Linked DNA regions of Homo sapiens: regions 1, 2 and 4 are each reported to be linked to region 3. Evidence: microRNA targets listed by miRTarBase, many of them from high-throughput screens and not tested one by one. Region 3 holds a microRNA gene; each other region holds the end of a gene's coding sequence. Distances are from middle to middle.

Region 1 (5,195 bases), not on the chromosome of region 3:
CCTGCAAGTTTCACTGCCAGGCTGACGTTGACACATTTGGAGTGAATCCTTTTGACTGTATTTCATTTTTGTAGGCAAGCATCCTTGGACTTATGAGGTGGTGATCCTGGTTGGGTACTCTTTCTGGGACTCTGTGATAAACATTGTCTGAAAAGCCCTAACTTTCTTTTGTCTTTTTCTTCCTTTTATTTTTATAGGAAACGTCCTTTTCTAGATCCATTTCTTTGACCCGACCTGGAAGCTCCAGCCTTTCAAGTGGGCCCAACTCTATCCTGTGCAGGGGGCGGCCACCTTTGGAGGAAAAGAAAGCCCTCTGCAAAGCCCCCTCTGTGGCCTCCTCCTGGCAGCCCTGGACACCTGTCCCCCAGGCTGGGGAGAAGCTGCTTCCACCTGGAGACACTTCAGAGGACTCCTTGTTCACGCCTCGTCCTGGGGAGGGCAGCGCTCCTGGGGTGCTGCCCAGCTCCCGGATAAGGCACAGATCGGAGCCCCAGCACCCCAAGGAGAAGCCGTTTATGTTCAACCTTGATGATGAAAACATACGGACCTCTGATGTGTGATGGAGCACAGTGCCATGGGAGGGAGGGAGGGAGGGAGGACTTGAGAGAAGGAGGCTGTGACTCAGTTTCTCTACCTTGTTGGAGGGTAGTCAGAGGCCTTTATGTCACTCATATTCCTGTGGATGCTCTTTGGGAGGGAGGGGCCCATCCAGCTGGGCTGTGTGTGTGTGTGTGTGTGTGTGTGTGTGTGTGTGTAATATCAACGCAGTGTATTTAATTTGGGGAAGTCACTAGGTTAGAACTGTAGGCATACTCAGTGGAGAGGAAGCTACCTATTCTATTCTAACTATTCTGAGGTCTTCCTGGAGAGGGATTGTTTTAGCAGCTCCTCTCCAGAGGGGGCTGGAAGTCCAGTTTCACCAATGACCAAGTTTTATTTCCTTGTCCTTGTTTTAGTTTTTTCATTTTGTTTTCAGTCCAGGTGCCTCGCAGCTCTTTTGGAATGGGCCAGCATTAGTCTAATTTTAAGCGCTATGTGTTTTGTACCCTTGCAAACTTGCTTTCTCTTTCTTCTTGCTGTTGCCCTTTGAATGAAGCCTTGTGTGCTTGCATGATCAGACCCTGTAATAGGATGAATTTCCATGCACTTAACATGAAGAGATACAAAAAGAATCTAGAGAGAGATATATATTTTTAATGAAATAGAAGCTTGGCATAGAAACATTGATTTAGATGTTATGAGTTGCTGGCCAGAGATTCCTCAGATAAAAGAGCCTAGAAAATTGAGTTTTGAGCGGGCATGGTGGCTCACGCCTGTAATGCCAGTAGTTTGGGAGGCTGAGGCGGGTGGATCACCTGAGGTCAGGAGTTCGAGATCAGCCTGGCCAACATGGTGAAACCCCGCCTCTACTAAAAAATATGCAAAATTAGCCGGGCGTGGTGGTGCAGGCCTGTAATCCCAGCTACTCAGAGGCTGAGGCAGGAGATTCACTTGAACCCAGGAGGTGGAGGTTGCAGTGAGCCAAGATCGCGCCATTGCACTCCAGTCAGGGCAACAAGAGTGAAACTCCGTCTCAAAATATAAAAGAAAATTGAGTGTCCCACCCAAATTTTAGGGCGTACCTCCTTCCATTTGATAAGAAGATGCTATTTCCAGTGTCCCTGGGAGAATTCTTCCATCCAGTTTATATGGTGAATTGCCACCAGCGTTCCCTAAAGGAAGAGAGAACTTAGCTTATTTCTGTCTGTGACTTTTATCAGCTAGATCAGTTAATTGTATTTTTAAATTAAAAATTAGTAACTAGAGGAAGAGACTAAGAGAACTATTTTTACCTGAGTAAATGCTCTCCTCTTCTTGTGTCCAAATCTAATGCAGAGGTGAAAACACTTGATGAGAAAATCCTTTGTGGCTTGAGGGGAATCATGTTTCTTTCAGGACGTGTTGTTTCCCTGAAGTCTATGTCACACTGAGAACTTTTTCTGACTGCACTGCTTTGGAGCTATTCATTTAAATTGAGTTTGGCCTAGTTTTCCTGGTATAAAACAGGAAATCTACATTGTTCCCTCTTTCTCTCCCTTCCATCCCTTCCCCTGCCTTTCCTATACACGCTGGTGTGCTTTTGCCCTCAGAAATTCTTGGTTTGGGAGTTATGTATTTTTGAGTGATCGAGGTTATGACATACTTGGAGCGGCATGATTTCAAGAAGCCATTCCAAATTCTTATAGCTCCTTAGCTCTGGTTTTACTCTCGTATTTTCCCCAAGAAAATTTTTTGGCTATTCAAAGAAAGCACAAAATATGTGATGTGGAACTCATGAAAATAGGGACTTTTGATATCTCTTTAAATATTCCCTGACTCACGGAAAAGATGTCCTCTTTTGGTGTATACATTGTGAAAATCTACCCATTTATCTCTCTCTCTCTCTTTTCTTTTAAATAAATTATCTGATAAGGCCGGCAAGGTGGCTCACGCCTGTAATCCCAGCACTTTGGGAGGCCGAGGCGAGCGGATCACGAGGTCAGGAGATCGAGACCGCGGTGAAACCCCGTCTCTACTAAAAATACGAAAAAAAAATTAGCCGGGCGCAGTGGCAGGCGCCTGTAGTCCCAGCTACTTGGGAGGCTGCGGCAGGAGAATGGTGTGAACCTGGGAGGCGGAGCTTGCAGTGAGCCAAGATCGCGCCACTGCACTCCAGCCTGGGCGACAGAGCAAGACTCCATCTCAAAAAAAAAATTATCTGATAGGTTACTATTGCTAAATTAATTGGCCATTATAATAAGCTGATTTGTTTCTTATTCAGCAAGATCTCTTTTGAGAATGTGACAAATTAAACATACATAGAATCCATATGGTATTATCCTGATAAAGGGAAACGAGGACACTAAGACTGTCAAATGGAAATCTTCTTGTCAATTGGCAAACACTTGGGAATTCCACATTAGAGCATTGCTTGTTTTTAATTTTTTTTTTTTAATTTTTAAAAGACAGGGTCTCACTCTCTTACCCAGGCTAGAGTGCAGTGGTGTGATCATAGTTCATCATAACTTTGAATCTCTGGGCTTAAGCAATCCTCCCATGTTAGCTTCCCAAGTAGCTAGGACTACAGGGTTGTGCTACCACGCCTGGCTAATTTTTAATTTTTTTTTATCTACAGAGCCTGGCTATGTTGCCCAGGCTCTCTCAAACTCCTGGCCCAAGTGATCCTCCTGCCTTGGCCTCCTAAAGTGTTGGGATTACAGGTGTGAGCCACTGCACCTAGCCAGAACATCGTTAATGTAGTTCAATATGAGATAAATTATTATCTTCAATGAAACAAGCTCTAAAAGCATTCCATTCCTAAATTGTATTTCAAACTTCCTATTTTGTTGATATTTCTTAACTTCTGGCCAGTTTTGGACCATAATCTTTTAATGTGAACCAAAGATGGTACGTATTTGACCAAAGCAGTTAGTTTTAAATGTATAAAATTGAACCAAATGGAAAAAATAGGTTGGGGATGCAGTATAGATTAGTGACTAAGTGCATAGGCTCTGGAGTAAATCTGAGTTTTTTTTTTTTTAAAGGAACTAAAAAATGTACTGCATTTTCTTTGTGGAATAAAAGCCTTGCCTGAGTTGTGCTATTTTCATAAGGCTTTTGAAGTGGTCTTGACCCACTGTGTGTAACAGTATTTCAGGTGGTCCTCCCCATGGCTGAATAATGCCATCCATTATTCTTTAATTTTTATTTTTAGAAACAGTGTTTCACTCTGTCACCCAGGCTGGAGTGCAGTGGCCTGATCATGGCTCACTGCAGCCTGGACCTCCTGGGCTCAAGTGATCTTCCTGCCTCACAGCCTCCCAAAGTACTCAGATTATAGGTGTGAGCCACCACGCCTGGCCACCATCTATTACTTTTGAAATCTTCAAAAGACTTGCTTACTCAATGTCAGCTGATGGTTGGTAAAAATAATTTGGCCTTTAGTGTTAAGTGAGACATCATAAGGGTATTGAGGTATACATTATGGAGATTGATGTCAGGTCAGAATATTGGAGTTATACATCTATTTCTGAGTTGAATACTCAGCTCCCACGAGAAAGAAAGTAGTTTTAAGGTCCAGCTTCTTAGTCTACTTGAAGCAAATTTTTTTTCTTTTATATTTCTGAATATAAATATACTCTTATATGGGCTAAAAAGACCCCATGAATAAATAGCAGGTTCAGTAGTTGAGGAGTGGAGTTTAGTAGGTTTGTTTTCAGTATAAATTAGATAACATGTGGAGGTCACAGCATTTTGGAAATTGAGTGTCCCCAAGTGAGCTTTGTTTATAAACTTTCAAAATGTCGGAAGTGGACAGGTTTGTTAAATCTTGTCTGCCAGCACCCTTTTCTTCCTTTGTTCCTTTTCCTCTCTGTGTTATTGCCTGCGGCAGCCAGTCCTTCATACTAGATAGAGTTCAGATAAAGCAAACGTTTGGCAAAAACATACTGTTTGACCTCCTCCCCCTCTGCTTATGAAGGGGTAGCATGATTCTGTGTTTTAAAGCAGTGATGTTTCAGCTGTGAAATGCACTCGCTGTAAGCTCTAGGCTGAGTGCATGGAAACTGTTACGCTTCTCATTTTATGTGATCTCCTAATTGGTATGTAGCAAAAATTTTCTAAAACTGTTTTGTGGCTTGTTTTGTAATAAAACCATGTGAAATACTGAAATATGGTCATGTGTTTTCCTAATACTGACCTTCTGACCATGGGTGGGTGAGCTTTCTTATCAGTCTGCCCTCATTGTCGGTTTTAGGGATTTCAGGAGGTAGGTTCCTGCTCCGGGTAGGGCTAGAGACCTTCCCCTCATTGCCTGGGGGAGAACCTGGCTCCGGGGCGCCGACGGGGGCGGGTGGTAGGGGATGTACGGGTGTGTATATGCAGAGGTATGCCAGGCTCTGCCCCTTAAAGTTTGGGGGCCGGCGGAGGCGGCGCCGTGGCCGGGAGAAAGTGTCTCTCATTTAGGAGGGTTTGCAGGTCCAGAGTAAAGTCACTGAAGAGTGGAAGCGAGGAAGGAACAGGATGATTAGACCTCAGCTGCGGACCGCGGGGCTGGGACGATGCCTCCTGCCGGGGCTGCTGCTGCTCCTGGTGCCCGTCCTCTGGGCCGGGGCTGAAAAGCTACATACCCAGCCCTCCTGCCCCGCGGTCTGCCAGCCCACGCGCTGCCCCGCGCT
Region 2 (5,195 bases), 54 Mb from region 3:
CCTATTGGAGTAGTTTTGATTTTAGCTTCTGCAGATGTTTACTTTATTTTCCATTACTGGCATGGAACAAATGAAGACCAAGCATAACAAGAGAAACATATCCTAAGGCCCAGAACTGCTCAATAATTTTTTAAAATCCTCTTTTCCATTTAGTGATCAACAGTACGTACCACAAAAACTAGTCCTCTTTCTGTCTTGGATCAAATTATGCTTGGTTATGGGACATGGACATATTCCAGTTAATACAATTAAAGAATCAAGCTGCAATGGAATAATGTGATTGAATACCTTAATCATGGCTATTTCCCAAAGGAGGGTTTTCTATTGAAAATATTTTCATAGTAAACGCGCAAGAAAAATTAGAGAGCTTTTTGTTTTGAATCAAAGGTAATTTCAATCCCGATTTGAAAATGGAGATTTGCAAATATCTTTGGCACTATTAATTGAAGTGTGAACATTATTTACTTGATAGACTCTTTGATTTACTTATTCCAATTTTTAATCCATTTATTTGTTTGCTTCATTACAGAATGTTTCTCCAGCCCAAGCTACTTGAGAATATTTTTCATCATTTTCATAGTTACATTCTTGATTGGGTTGCTTAAAGTCCTGATCATTAGACAGGTGATACTACAATGGAATAGTAATAAAATTAAGTCCTCATCAGATTACAGAGTGTCAGCCTCAAAAAAGGTCAGTGAATTCTAAAAAAGAACTGCTAACAGTATGTTATTGCCTAGTTACAATATTTAGGCCCTTAGTTAATAATAATATTTCTTCTCTATTAAGGATAAGTTGATTCTGCAAAGTGTTTGCACAAGAGCAGTCACCTACCGACGTGAGAAGCCTGAAGAAATAAAAATGGATATCAGCAAATTAAATGCTCATGAAACTTTCAGGTGCAACTTCTAAAAAAAGATTTTTAAACACTTAATGGGAAACTGGAATTGTTAATAATTGCTCCTAAAGATTATAATTTTAAAAGTCACAGGAGGAGACAAATTGCTCACGGTCATGCCAGTTGCTGGTTGTACACTCGAACGAAGACTGACAAGTATCCTCATCATGATGTGACTCACATAGCTGCTGACTTTTTCAGAGAAAAATGTGTCTTACTACTGTTTGAGACTAGTGTCGTTGTAGCACTTTACTGTAATATATAACTTATTTAGATCAGCATAGAATGTAGATCCTCTGAAGAGCACTGATTACACTTTACAGGTACCTGTTATCCCTACGCTTCCCAGAGAGAACAATGCTGTGAGAGAGTTTAGCATTGTGTCACTACAAGGGTACAGTAATCCCTGCACTGGACATGTGAGGAAAAAAATAATCTGGCAAGTATATTCTAAGGTTGCCAAACACTTCAACAGTTGGTGGTTGAATAGACAAGAACAGCTAGATGAATAAATGATTCGTGTTTCACTCTTTCAAGAGGTGAACAGATACAACCTTAATCTTAAAAGATTATTGCTTTTTAAAGTGTGTAGTTTTATGCATGTGTGTTTATGGTTTGCTTATTTTTGCAAGATGGATACTAATTCCAGCATTCTCTCCTCTTTGCCTTTATGTTTTGTTTTCTTTTTTACAGGATAAGTTTATGTATGTCACAGATGACTGGATTAATTAAGTGCTAAGTTACTACTGCCATAAAAAACTAATAATACAATGTCACTTTATCAGAATACTAGTTTTAAAAGCTGAATGTTAATAGGGGACACTGTAAAGTATCATCAAAACCTGAATAGCTTCATTGTGCACAAGTGTGGAGTTTTGTATCCTCTTACCTGGTAAACTGAAGGGATTGTTTGGCCATTTCATTTATCTTATCATTAATTCACAAGATAGTTAGAAATTCTGCCTCAAGCAAAGTACCACATTTTGAATGTTTTCTTAGATTTTGATTGCAAGTAGATATCAGCATTTTTTAAATGAAAAGCTATATTATCTTCTCCCTTCAAGGCAGCCTAAGGATGTTCTTTCCCAGAATCACTCCAACCCTTCTTGCCAGAATTCATAAAAGTACAAAATTGGAGAATAGATGATATCTTAGAAATAAGCTTTTTTTTTTTTTTTTTTTTTTTTTGAGACGGAGTTTCACTCTTGTCACCCAGGCTGAAGTGCAATGGCGCAATTAGGGTTCACTGCAACCTCTGCCTCCCGGGTTCAAGCAGTTCTCCTGCCTCAGCCTCCTGAGTAGCTGGGATTACAGGCATCCACCACCGTGCCCAGCTAATTTTTGTATTTTTAGTAGAGACGGGGTTTTGCCATGTTGGACAGGTTGATCTCAAACTCCTGACCTCAGGTGATCTACCCTCCTCGGCCTCCCAGAGTGTTGGGATTACAGGCATGAGCCACCATGCCAGGCTGCTAATTCTCCTTTTTAGTGAGTTAGGGAACTGAGCCTCAGAAAACTTAAACGATTTCTCAGAAAACACTCAAGTGATAAAGTGGCCACATTGGAAAGGAGTTTTTATCTTCTCATTGTCAGGCCAGTGTTCATTGCACAATATCATGCTACCTCTTGAATCTTTAAAATATTCAATTGGCAAATGTTTTTCAATGTGATTTACTCATGTCTTAAGTGTATGAGGAAAGTTCAAAGCAAAATAGAAAGGAATAATTCAAACTGAATTGTCCATAATCAGCTTCCAGTCTTTCATGCTAATCAGCTTCTTAAGAGACTGAAGTATGGCATACCTACAGGGGAATTCCTTCGCACCATAGCCTGTATGAACAGTGTTCCCTGGAGTTCTCCAGTGCTCAGCTTGAGACCTTGATACACGGGCCATGAGCCCTGTCTTCCCCAATGGAAATTTATTTACACTTACCTTATCCCTATGGACTTAGTCTGATTTTATTGGCTAGGAGTCTAACAGTCCTGTGTGGATATACAGTTTTGCCCATGACAACAAAGGAATCTATCCGAAATATCTTTTTTTTTATAATAAACTTCCAAGATTTGCTGTCTTCCAGCACTTGAGTTAAAGTACTAGATACTGCATTTTGATGAAGACTAACCCCATCTCATATTCTACCCTAAAGAGAACTGAAAAACCTATAATAAGTTGTTCTGGAGCCAATAAACACAGCAGCTCTGTTAGATGTCCTCTACAGCCAAGCACTTTCAATGCTAACTTGAACTGCATTTCCTTCCTCAAATGAGAGATTGACATAATTCAGTACTGTGAGTCACTTGTATAAGAAACCTTTGATCACTAAAAATAATGTAAAAATTGGGTTTAGTAGCCTAATACACATAACGTTCTTCTTAAAAAGGAAAATGGATGGATGCCTGACAACCCTCCAAAAGAAAAAAGTGTAAGATAGCCATTAAGATGATGACAATTTTTGAAATGAACATTATGATATTTATGAACAATAAACAAATTTCCGTATGGAATGAATTATCCAAAAAGAGTATAACAAAATGAAATCCTTAAAAATCCAGAGTTTATATTTTTTTTATACCCTCACTTGTTTGCACTAACTTTATAGTGGACCAAGGCTGTTACCATAGGAAGGGACAAACTTCCTTGTAGGCAACTCAGTGTTAGACGATGATTGTGGTTATGCTTGCAAAGTCTTGTGCTTATCTTTTTTGTTTTTACTTAAAAAGCTAATTTTTAAAGATTGTAGGGCTTGTATTTTACTTGAATAATTGATATCTTCCTGTGTAATGATTTGTGAGATGAGAATTAATATTTGACTAGTTAGAATTAATTAAATGGTAAGGGAACACAGGGTACTCTTAGGTTAAATAATGTATGCAAATAGAGTCTATTTTCAACTAATATGGCCACAGGAGCCTTTTGAGATTCATTGATATTAAACACAATTAATGAAATTTTAAATTGTTAACAGAATTGAGAACTTGAACAACACTTTTAGTACTGCAGCATTTTTGTGCCCTAAAGTATGTAATGATTTATAAATGTGCCATACATACACTACAACATAACATTTGCTTTGTTATGCATTTTATTTCTCTGGGGACACCATTGCACTGCAGTGCACACGTATTTATAAACATTTGTTATATTTTTGGAAACTTGCTAATATTTATTAAGTCATAGACTTTTCTGGAGGACTTAAAAATTCACTAAAAATCTGATTATGTCTTAAATGTTCAGTTTATCTTTGGTTTATTAAAATAAAAAAAAAATCTAAGATTAAACACAGTAGATATCTCTGGAGGCAATTTTCCAAAACTCAACATTAAAATTTGTGGATGCATGAGATGCAATCCTTCAAAGAATGAATCTGAAATATATTTTTAATATTTACTTAATATCCACTGAAGATATCTTTATGCAAGACAAGAGTCAGCCATCAGACACTGAAATATATTATGATAGATTATGAAGAATTTTCTCTGTAGAATTATATTCTTCCTGGAACCTGGTAGAGTAGATTAGACTCAAAGGCTTTTTCTTCCTTTTCTTACTCCTGTTTTTTCCACTCACTCTTCCCAAGAGATTTCCTAAAGCTTCAAGCTTAATAAGCCTAATAGTGAAAAATAACTGAATTTAATGGTATAATGAAGTTCTTCATTTCCAGACATCTTTAATTGATCTTAAAGCTCATTTGAGTCTTTGCCCCTGAACAAAGACAGACCCATTAAAATCTAAGAATTCTAAATTTTCACAACTGTTTGAGCTTCTTTTCATTTTGAAGGATTTGGAATATATATGTTTTCATAAAAGTATCAAGTGAAATATAGTTACATGGGAGCTCAATCATGTGCAGATTGCATTCTGTTATGTTGACTCAATATTTAATTTACAACTATCCTTATTTATATTGACCTCAAGAACTCCATTTTATGCAATGCAGACCACTGAGATATAGCTAACATTCTTTCAAATAATTTTCCTTTTCTTTTATAATTCCTCTATAGCAAATTTTTATGTATAACTGATTATACATATCCATATTTATATTTCATTGATTCCAAGACATCACTTTTTCAATTTAACATCTCTGAAATTGTGACATTTCTTGCAACTGTTGGCACTTCAGATGCAGTGTTTAAAATTATGCTTGAATAAATATTACACTAATCCAACTTTACCTAAATGTTTATGCATCTAGGCAAATTTTGTTTTCTTATAAAGATTTGAGAGCCCATTTATGACAAAATATGAAGGCGAAATTTAAGGACAACTGAGTCACGCACAACTCAACATGGAGCC
Region 3 (5,195 bases):
TGGTTGCGCACTCAGGGGGTGCCACTGCTACTCTCTGCGAGAGTGGTGCCAAGGCTCCAAGCTTTCAGGGAGCTTGTCTTTGAGAAGAACCCCCAGAGCCCGCAGTATGCACTATACAGTCATCCTCATTATCCACAGATCCCATATTTGCAAATCCACCCAGTCGCTAAAATTCATGTGTAATCCCAAGCTAGATACCAGCAGCATTTCTCCAGTCAGTCCTGGACCTGCACAGATGCGACGATCCCAGCTGAGGCAGAAAACGATAATGCTCTGCCTGTTTCAGTTATTAGCTGTCAAGTCTTTTCACGATGAGTGTCGGGTGTTTTGCCCTTTGGGCTTTTTCTGGTGACATCGCTGTCTGAAGTGGCCCCAGGTGCAGTGTGAAGTGCTGTCTGCTGTTCTTAAGTGCAGGCTGGCTGTCAGGTGTCTTACAGACAAAACCGGTGTGGGATGAGCTTTCTAACAGGCTGAAATGATGGCACCACAGACTACTTACTACAGCTGGCCCTGAGTTCAATGTTAACACTATTAAATGAATCAACACTAACATTAAATGAGGCGTCTTTAAAATCAAGGTCACATAGGCTGGGTGTGGTGGCTCACGCCTGTAATCCCAGCACTCTGGGAGGCAGAGGTGGGCAGATCACCTGAGGCTGGGAGTTCGAGACCAGCCTGACCAACACGGAGAGACCCCGTCTCTACTAAAAATATAAAAATTAGCTGGGTGTGGTGGTGTGCGCCTGTAATCCCAGCTACTTGGGAGGCTGAGGCAGGAGAATCGCTTGAACCCTGGAGGCGGAGATTGCAGTGAACCGAAATCATGCCACTGCACTCCAGCCTGGGCAACAGAGTGAGCCTCTGTCTCAAAAAAAAAAAAAAGAAAAAAAAAAAAGTCACATAAAGCAATGTTAGGTATGATCAGCTGACGAAAATGTTGTGATCTGTAGCACACAGGAGCAGCACCGCACGGGCTCATTCAGTGTTCTAGCAACTCCACAGAACCACCTCCAATGATAAGCGCTGACTGCATCACCTGTGGTGGGGGCCGATTTCTATTCTTTAAAGGTGGCAAGGGTTTTGGAAACCAAGGGATCTCACACCCAGTTCAGAGACTGAGTTAAATAATAAATTTTAACAAACCAAGTAATGAAAGCAAGTCTGAACAGATTTAGACCAATAAGAGCACTGCTTTAGGGGAAATACACTGGGAGGCATACAGTCGAGTATAAGGTCCTTTACAAAGTATTTTACCCACATTACACAGTTCAGTGAACAAGCCTAGTTAGTATTAAAACATTTAACTTCACGTTTCCCCCAAACTAAACTGTGAAGTGTACCTTTCCACGTGAGTACAAAGTAAATTTACACCCTTTACTATGAGATTAAATGATTTCGACCACCAATGTCTAGCGTGAAACAAATAGCTCACACCACGCTGGTGAAGCAGATGAACAAGGATCTCTCATCAAATCTGTTGGTGGGGGCCGGGCGCGGTGGCTCATGCCTGTAATCCCAGCACTTTGGGAGGCCGAGGCAGGTGGATCACGAGGTCAGGAGATCGAGACCATCCTGGCTAACATGATGAAACCCCGTCTCTGCTAAAAATACAAAAAATTAGCCGGGCGTGGTGGTGGGTGCCTGTAGTCCCAGCTACTTGGGAGGCTGAGGCAGGAGAATGGCATGAACCCAGGAGGCAGAGCTTGCAGTGAGCCGAGATCGCACCACTGCACTCCAGCCTGGGCAACAGAGCAAGACTCCGTCTCAAAAAAAACAACAACAAAAAATCTGTTGGTGGGTTTCTAGGAAGCAAACTATTCATGAGAATCTTCAGAGTTTTCTTTACAAAGCTTAGTTTAACACTGGCTATTTCTGATGATGAAATGTTTTTGCTTTCTTGGTACTTTTCTGTTGCTCTATTTTGTTTTTTACATGAGCAGGTATCATTAAAAAAAATAGCACCATCCTATTAAAAAGTAAAAAAGATCTACTCTCGCAAATAACGTATAAAGTATCAAATTAGCCATTACTCCATCGAGTGAGCCCACATAGGGTTTGAGATGTCACCAAAACACTGCAGTTCCCACCAGAACTGGTGGCGGCCAGGCCATGGCCGTGTTCACTGTGTCTCTGCTTGAGCGCCAGTGGCCAAGCTAAGCCAAGGGTAGAAAGACGTTAGTATGTGGGCAACTTCTATAACACCTGCGAATACCAAACTGGCAGGGGAAAGGCCGTTCCCTGAGCTGCTGGTTGGCTCTAAGAAGACAGCTGCTGCATGTTTCAATCAGAGACTAGCTTATACATAAAATTACAGATTGACTTCACCATACTGCACTTTTATGAATAAGCTCATTTCTGACTGGCTACAGGACTTTTAAGAACTATATTATTCAACAGGTAGTCGTCACCTGTTCAGCCAAAGCTGAGTTTTTAAAAATCTCAGACTCACAAGACAGCGTGCACCAGTCCCTCCCATACTCACCCACTACTTTACACCGGTTTTGTTTTGATGGGGGGAGGGTGCTGACGTTCTATACAGCACAGCATTGACAGCACATCCCAAGTTTGCGGGAAAGAAAACAAATTTGTTTTTCTCTTCCTACCTTTCTGGGTTACAACTGAAGTTTTTATCATGTGCATATATAAAAAATTATACTTTTGTAATTTAAAAACAGAAAGTAAAGATGATAAAAATGCTTAAAATCACCCTGCAGGGCAGAGGCCTGGCGTGTGGACTGATGCTTTGTGCTATACCACCAGCTGCTCTGCCTGGGTTGGCTAAGAAAGAGAACGGCGAAGTGCATCAGGTCCACCATCAAGGGACTGGACCTCCCCACAATCCTCCAAGAAAAAAAAGGGCCATCAGGACTACCTTTCACCATGTAAGAACCCAAACCTCTATCCTATGTTTTCCAGAAGGAACAGTACTTCTCTTGGTGCCATACACAAAACCACAGAGGAGTTTCCCTGGGCTAGAGTCTGAGAAAGACTGCTGAGCGAGCTCAAGGACCCAGGCCCGTACACATCCAAGGAGCTGCAGGCTAACAAAGGTGACCACACAAGGTGCATGGGGCTCAAGTCCTGCCCCCACAGGCTCTAACAGAGGCTTACTTGCATGCCTGGGCACCCTGCAGGAGAGTTGTATTTGTTAAAGGAACTAAATAAGTAGTCCGGCCAGGCGGGCTACTCGTAAGAAACAGAGAACAGCAGCAAGGCTCCTAGGAAAAATTAAGTGGTGATACTTTAAATACTGATACCAGAATTGAAGTCATCCCGGGAATCCCATCCACCTCTAGATTCTCGAGAGCTACCCATTCCTGAGGATACACAAAAAAGATAAAGTTGAGGTCGTGTCATTACCTTGCTGCGCAAACATGGAAAAATTCATTTGGAAGACATACAACTCAAGTGATGGAAGGTTCAATGAAATCATTTTAAGAGCTTTTGCTTCCAACAGAAAACAAAAAACGCCAGGCTTGCAGAAGCATCAGCCATTCTTTCTAGGATTTTACGCAAACTTTTAAGAGCTCACGAGAACCTATCACACCTATGAGATAATCGAGTTCTACTAGGAACGTTCACGAGTTGGAATTGGTAGGCATACTGCAAATCTTTATGATGTTCAGCTTTAGAAGAACCAATCACCTCTGTCATCTGGTCCACCTTTTCTGAATCCAAAGCCACCTTTATCTTGTTTTCTGCCTTCTGCAATGTCCACACGAAGTGACCGATCGCCCAACAGCTAATGATAAAGGGAAAATAGTGTAAGTATTGGCAAAGAAAACAATCTCAACTGCTATGACAGAGAAAACCCGAGGATACTTACTGCACCATCGTATGTCAAGGCTTCCTTAAGGGAATCCACTTCATCGAATTCTACATAGCAGAATCCTGGAAAAGAAAAGAAGACCCCGATTTCCTCAAGTAATTCTGGGTTAAAGATGTGGGAAGATCCTATTCATACTACTTCTCCACGTCACAACTACCATTCTGTTGTCTAGATGATGGCAGACTAGGAGAGCCTTTCAATAGATAGAACCCTGACTGGCATTCCTCCCTCTCAATTCTATTTTATCAGTCAGAAAATGCTAACTGAACATGCACTGAAATAGCAGCTGCGTTTCTAGAAAGCTTTCTTCTTGAATGTTTTAACCATAATATTCAAACCTTTCTCAGGCCATCTGCAGAGCTCTTCTGACTTCTGAATGACTATTTAATCTAAGTGAGGATTAGATTTCGTAGATTTCAAACTTGGTACCTAAAATGCTCTGAAGAAAGAGGCTTAAAGTGCCGATTTAACTTACTACTCAGGTAACTGACATAAAATTTGCTTCACAAAGCTGAAAATATATCCTTGGCAATCAGGGCATTCTTCTCTGAATGTTAATTAAAAGACAGGCAGCCTGGGTCCAAGTACCTGTTACTGACAACCTGTGTCCCTGATGCCAGGGGTCTGACATTGCCCCTTCCTTGCTGTCTGGAGTCTAAATCTAGTTCATTACTCCCCAGATGCTGGCACTACACCCTGCATCCCCTCTCCCCCAGCGTCCTTGCCCTGTGTATAATAACTTAATAATCACACTTCATCTTTGAAGCCCACTAGACCGCAAGTGCTCTAAAGGCCTGAGTCCAAACTTTCCCTGTTTACCAACTGTGTGTTAAGAACATACTGCCTTGGCTGGAGGGATGTCCCCCCAGGTTTCCTCCCTAAGTGGATTCAATGTTGAGAATAATGGAGAAAACTACCCCCAACTTCACAGAAGCAACAGACACCCAATCTCATCTTCTAGAGCTGCTCAAATGAAGATGGTCCTTCATGAGCCAAACTCCAAAGCCTGCAGCGACTGACCCAGCCCAAAGGCTAGGCTCACCCACACACTCCAACCCAAAGTTTAGTTCCTAATGCTTCCTGGAGCTTACTTCACAAGTGTAACTGATATATTTGTTTTCACTGTTTGATTACACACTACATGTGGCTTCAGATTCTGAAGTCAAAAAGAGTAAGAGTGCCACCGACACACAAAACCACCCAGGTCAGCAAGGCCTTCTCGACTGCTGGCACAGCTCCCCGCCCCAAGTTACCCCATACTTGTCACAGATGTGCTTTTGGGTGGATTATGCGGGCCAAACATCCTGGGTCCTAGCATCGTGCACTTACACAGCAGGCACACTTCCTTCAGGAAGCCCTGCAGGCA
Region 4 (5,167 bases), not on the chromosome of region 3:
AGGATATACGTGGAATTTGTCTGGCTTGATGTTGAAAACGTTCTGTGGTTTTATATTAAGGGAACCTTGTTTCTCCTCACAGATTGAAGCCTGCAATAAAGAAGCAGAGAAGATTGAGTCCCTTATCAACTCTGACAGCCCGACTTTGGCGTCCCATGTCCCTCTCTCTGCCCTCATCATTTCCCAGGTACAGGTCTCCAGCAGTGTGCCATCGGCCGGTGTCAGGGCCAGGCCTTCTTGCCACTCCCTCCTCCTTCCCCTCAGCTTGGGCCTTGCCTTGCACTTGCTCTGGACATATAACTGACTGCCCACGGAAAGTGCAGAATGCTCCTCCACCTCACTCTCCTGCCTTGAAAAAGACATTCAGGACTGCTGGTTTGTAGTTGAATATTGGCCAAGGAAAGGCACATGTCACCTCTATTCGCCACACAGTATTTTTTTTTTTAATCCGCCAATATTAGTAGGATTTTTGTTTTGTTTTTACAAATGTTAAAATGTGTTGTTCCAAATACTAATGAAAACAGAATGTCTCTTCCTGGTAGACCACTGCCATATGATTTACATTTCCTCACCATAAGGGTCCCCCACTCTAAAGCAAATTTATCGCTGGGAAATGAGATGACCACTTTTTAGAAAGATAATTCACTGTACTATCAGGTTCACAAACTTCATTTCAGAGTTCTTTTTGAAGTATTTAAGGTTCCCGTTGCATTTGTTTTGTTTACAGATAATTACCTACTCTGGCTAGAAGCTAGGGGTCCCAGTGAAGAGCCACTGCCATTAAAGAATATGAAACATAGATAAAACATCTTTGAAATTATGTAAATTATGTAAATTATCAGGCAAATTTGCATTAAATTACAGAAATTTAATTCAGAACCCCAACTACTGTGTTATGCAAAAGCAAGCTGATTAAATGACACTCATATAATTATATGTTGTAAGCAACAGGCTCACTGGTCACGGATTTGTGTCTGTGACTTTTGTGAAAGGGAGAAGTGACATTGCATCAAAGCATCTTGCATTATGCAATTTTTATATTAACCAGATATATATTCATCGGTATTCATCCAAGTTAAATGTAGAGTTTTTAAACATCAATCTTTAAACCAATTGCTGCTACTTATATAATTGCCAAAAAGTGAAATAATGTGTAGTTCATGTAAATAATACATTATATTTCTATTTTATTATGAAGAAGGTGAATAGCCATATTTGTAAAATGACAATCATGTGTGTTAACCCAGTGCTTTCCATTCGTGAAAACACATTTGCTTTTTGTGATATGCACAATGTAGATAAGTGTTCTGTCTGACTTTCTTTTTTGATATAGAAGTATAAAGAATTGTGGTTTATATATTTAAAAGTGTCAAGCTGAGTATTAAAATGTATGCATGTTGTCTAAGAAATTGAATACTTTGAATGTGTTTCACAGTTTGAAATAAGCTATTTGATGTAATACTTCTTGTGTGTATGCACATGAACTTAGATTTTACATGAAGTATTTTTTCAGTATTATATGTACCCTCTGAAATACATAGGGATATGCGTATTATACCAAAATGTTGCTGAAAAATGGGCACTTAAAGCTTTCAGAATATGTCAGTGCTGATGTAGCATGCTTGTTGCAATTGCCTTTTTTCTGTATAAATGTCTTTAATGCAATATACTGGAAAGCTTTTCTATTTTAATAAAAATAATTTTTATATGATCATGCATGCTTCTAAGCAATGTTGACATTCAAAAAGGAAACCACTGATCACCCTTAGGTGAGCTGTGTCCTTTGCTCGGGGATAAGAAGTCATGGAAATTAGCCGGGTATGGTGGCACATGTCTGTGGTCCCATCTACTTGGGAGGCTGAGGCTGGAGAATCGCTTGAACCTGGGAGGTGGAGGTTACAGTGAGCTGAGATCACACCACTGTACCCCAACCTGTCTCATACCTGAGACAGAGTGAGACCCTGTCTCAAAAAAAAAAAAAAGAAGTCATGGAGTGCTATTATCCCAAGCCAAGGGCCCTGGGAGAACAGGCCAGCTAGGACACAGTTGGTCAGACCAGAGGGCAGGCAGTGACAGAGAGTCAAATACAAAGACCCCAGCTTTCAGCCTTAAGGACAGAGAGAGCTTCAGGCCTTCCAAGACTGCATACTAGGCAGTTCTCCCCACTGTGCTGGTCCTGATGTTCCAGTTCCAGGGTACACCTGGGGCAGGGAGACCATGGGAATATGGAGATGGAGGGCTGCTGATGGGACCAGAGAAGTGGTACCAATCAGCTTAGGCTAAGTCCCCAAAACTTCAGTGGCTTACAACAGAGGCTTCTATTTTGTTCCCTTCACATGTCCATTGTGGGTCAGCTGCCACACCTGATACTATCTTCACTCCAGACCCATTCCAGCGTCCTCACAAAGGGCAGAAAAGAGACATAGAGGACCACAAGCTGGCCCTGAATTCTCTGCTTGGAAGTGATGCTGTCATTTCTTTCTACGTTTTACTAACCAAAGCAAGTCACATGGCCACTCCAGAGTTCAAAGGGTGGGGACATACAGTCCTCCCACGGTGTTTTGTGTGTGTTGGGGGAGGGACAGTAAGTATTTTGAATAACACTGTCTACCATAGACATCTTTTCTCATCAGGCTAGGACAATAGCCAGGACTGACAAGATTTTTTATTAGAGAAGTAGATGTTTCCAGCCTGGTCAACATAGCAAGAACCCATCTCAAAGAAAATGCAAGGCGTTTAATAGGACAGGTTGGAGAAGGTGATCAAATGGTACAGGCAACCTGCCATGGGAGGTGTGAGTTGGGGGAGGGAGCATCTAACAAGGGGGAAGACGCAAGCCCTCGAAAAGAGGGTTGGTTTGCACCAGGCCTGGAAGAAACCAGGAGACTTTGCCAGATGGCTTTGAGAAAGGCATTCTAAGTAGGAGGTACAGCTTGAGCAAAGGTGCAGAAACGACAGAGTCCAGGTCCGTTCCAGGGGTAGAACAGCAGGGCTGACATGTTGTGAGGGGCGTGGTGTGGGGAAGTATAAGGCAGATCCGATGTGCCCAGCTTGAATGCCAGGCCACAGTGGCATCCTAAGCCTCTGCCCTTGCCCTTCCAGCTACACTGACCAGCCTGGATAGCTCTAGCCTGCAAAGGATTGTGTGCCCCAAACTTCAGTGCCACGAGACCTTCAAGACCATCCACTGATCTTGTTACTAGGCAGTGCTTCCCTCTGTCCTGTGAGCACCCTGGACTCTCCTGAGGAAATAATAACTGAGCAGGCTGGGGGCCAGGGTTCCCTTAGGCCTGGTCCCCACCCTTAGAGTTCAGCCAGGGTCTCTTTCAGCTCCACTGTGGGAGGAAACTTAAACCCACCAGGAACACTGATCGTCACTGAAGAAACTGCACTTTCCTTCGTTTGATTCAATGCTTCTCTTTCAGCCTTGGGCTGATGGGAGTCAGGCCCACACACTCCCACAGAGGGTGCTCTAATTCTCAGAGGGACAGGAGGCCCCGCTGCAGGGGCCTTTCCTTCCCTGCCTCCCAGCTGCAGAAGAGGCTTGAGTTGTGCACTTTGCAAGCTGAGAGAAAGTGAAGGCAGAGGCGTCATTCCCAGGGATGAGCCAGTCCTTCCAGCAGTCCAGCAATCTTGGGGCTGGAGGGCAGATTTCCACGGTGCACACAGAGAGAAACCAAGAGTACAGGGACCAAGCTGTGGTTACACAGGGAGTCAGGGTGAAGCCACGGCCAGAGGCCAGGTCCAGGCTTTCCCTGGCACAAGGCAGCCAGGCAGGATTTGTACTTCTCAGAAATGGAACTGGCCATAAAGGAGGTTGCCATGAAGGTAGATGCCAGAAGGTGAGCAGAGTGAAACAGTTCCAAGGCCAGGTGAGCCTGGGTGGGTCTGAGCAAACAGGTTCAAGGAGCATCAGGAATCATAAAAAGTAACTGACACAGTTCGCCAGCTCACTTTCTAGGGCAGTTTAGGGAGTGCTTTTCACCATGTTGTCTCCCGGCCCAAAGCAAAACGCCTCACACAGAGAGCAAATGCCAAGTCTAAGGTTGAGTTTCATTCTAGAGCCCAGCCTCAGGGCATTAGGCTGATGGTGGAGAGGGTAGGGAAGGAAGCCTCACAGGGTGAACACTCTGTCCCCTGGCTCCACCCACTTTTCCATTATTCCAAAATGAAGTTCACTGTATTGTTTTTTCCTTGTAAAAGTTACGTGTGCACCTTCCCCCAAGTACTTGGAAATATAAATAAAGGAAAAAAAATCCCATACCTTCCTCTCCCTGCCTCTACAAATAAGTGCAGAATCCTTCTAGAGCCTTCTCTGTACATATCTATCTCTCTCTGTAATCAGGGCAAGGTACCTCCTCTGTCTGCAATGGGGAGGAGGTGGTTACCTCACTGCCCTGTGCGGGGAAATTGAGGGAAACGGTTTCATATTTGGGATGTTGTCTACTGGGCGGTACATCCTTGCCTAAAGGTTCATAGGTGGAAGCCCTATCTTGGCCAACACCCACCAGGTAATCAGGGGGTGGGTCTTTTCCTAAAGACCACCTCCTCTGTCTTCTCCAGACCAATCTCCCACTGAACTCTACTGCAAATGCAACCAGTTGCTTTGCCAAACAGAAGTGTAACCACTTAGGCAGGGCGCGATGGCTCATGCCTGTAATCCCAGCACTTTGGGAGGCTGAGGCAGGCAGATCACTTGAGCTCAGGGGTTCGAGACAAGCCTAGGCACCATGGCGAAACCCCATCTCTACAAAAAATACAAAGGCATGGTGGCATGTCCCTGTGGTCCTAGCTACTTGGGAGGCCGAGGTGGGAGAATGGTTTGAGCCAGGGTGGTTGAGGCTGCAGTGAGCCAAGATCATGCCACTGCACTCCCGCCTGGGCAACTGAGTGAGACCCTGTCTCATCCAAAAAAAAAAAAAAAAAAAAGAAGAAGAAGAAGGCTAACCATTTATGTTGGTCAGGGTCCTAGCAGGAAAACGAATGGTCCACCCAAATTAGGATTAATTGGAGGAAAGTTTAATAAAGGGGCTATTTATAAAGGTGTGGGCAGGATGTAGGGAAACCACAAGGCATAGTACAACACGCCAGGCCTCAAAGTGGAGCTGTTAGCACCTCTAACCCCTAAGCCTAACGGAGAAGCCATTGCTTCTCTCCCTTGGGTCTC

Evidence for each region. Region 3 holds the annotated microRNA hsa-miR-590-5p (GAGCUUAUUCAUAAAAGUGCAG, at 2,330-2,351, opposite strand). A microRNA usually pairs through its seed, bases 2 to 8, with sites in the 3' UTR of a target mRNA and lowers its output. Matches are read on the target gene's strand: a 7mer-m8 pairs with bases 2 to 8, a 7mer-A1 pairs with bases 2 to 7 and ends in A, and an 8mer does both.
Region 1: the mRNA of PLEKHA2 is a reported target of hsa-miR-590-5p. Seed matches in the 3' UTR shown: 7mer-m8 at 2,776-2,782.
Region 2: miRTarBase lists ITGB8 as a target of hsa-miR-590-5p. Seed matches in the 3' UTR shown: 7mer-m8 at 2,056-2,062.
Region 4: miRTarBase lists RECK as a target of hsa-miR-590-5p. Seed matches in the 3' UTR shown: 8mer at 1,442-1,449.

What each region holds. Positions count from the first base shown.
Region 1 is chr8:38,969,224-38,974,418 of GRCh38, forward strand. It overlaps PLEKHA2 (pleckstrin homology domain containing A2), which reads left to right. Exons shown (of 12, transcript NM_021623.2): 12 at 198-4,689. The coding sequence ends at 560. HTRA4 (HtrA serine peptidase 4) reads left to right here and starts at 5,005. Exons shown (of 9, transcript NM_153692.4): 1 at 5,005-5,195. The coding sequence starts at 5,041. RefSeq lists a silencer at 5,172-5,195.
Region 2 is chr7:20,409,086-20,414,280 of GRCh38, forward strand. It overlaps ITGB8 (integrin subunit beta 8), which reads left to right. Exons shown (of 14, transcript NM_002214.3): 13 at 530-693; 14 at 790-5,195. The coding sequence ends at 912. Among named protein-coding and RNA genes, the nearest start is that of ITGB8-AS1, 80 kb to the left of the region's middle.
Region 3 is chr7:74,188,369-74,193,563 of GRCh38, reverse strand. It overlaps MIR590 (microRNA 590), which reads right to left and starts at 2,366; the gene lies at 2,270-2,366. It overlaps EIF4H (eukaryotic translation initiation factor 4H), which reads right to left. Exons shown (of 7, transcript NM_022170.2): 3 at 3,827-3,891; 4 at 3,646-3,742; 5 at 3,258-3,317.
Region 4 is chr9:36,122,742-36,127,908 of GRCh38, forward strand. It overlaps RECK (reversion inducing cysteine rich protein with kazal motifs), which reads left to right. Exons shown (of 21, transcript NM_021111.3): 21 at 83-1,714. The coding sequence ends at 304. Among named protein-coding and RNA genes, the nearest start is that of GLIPR2, 11 kb to the right of the region's middle.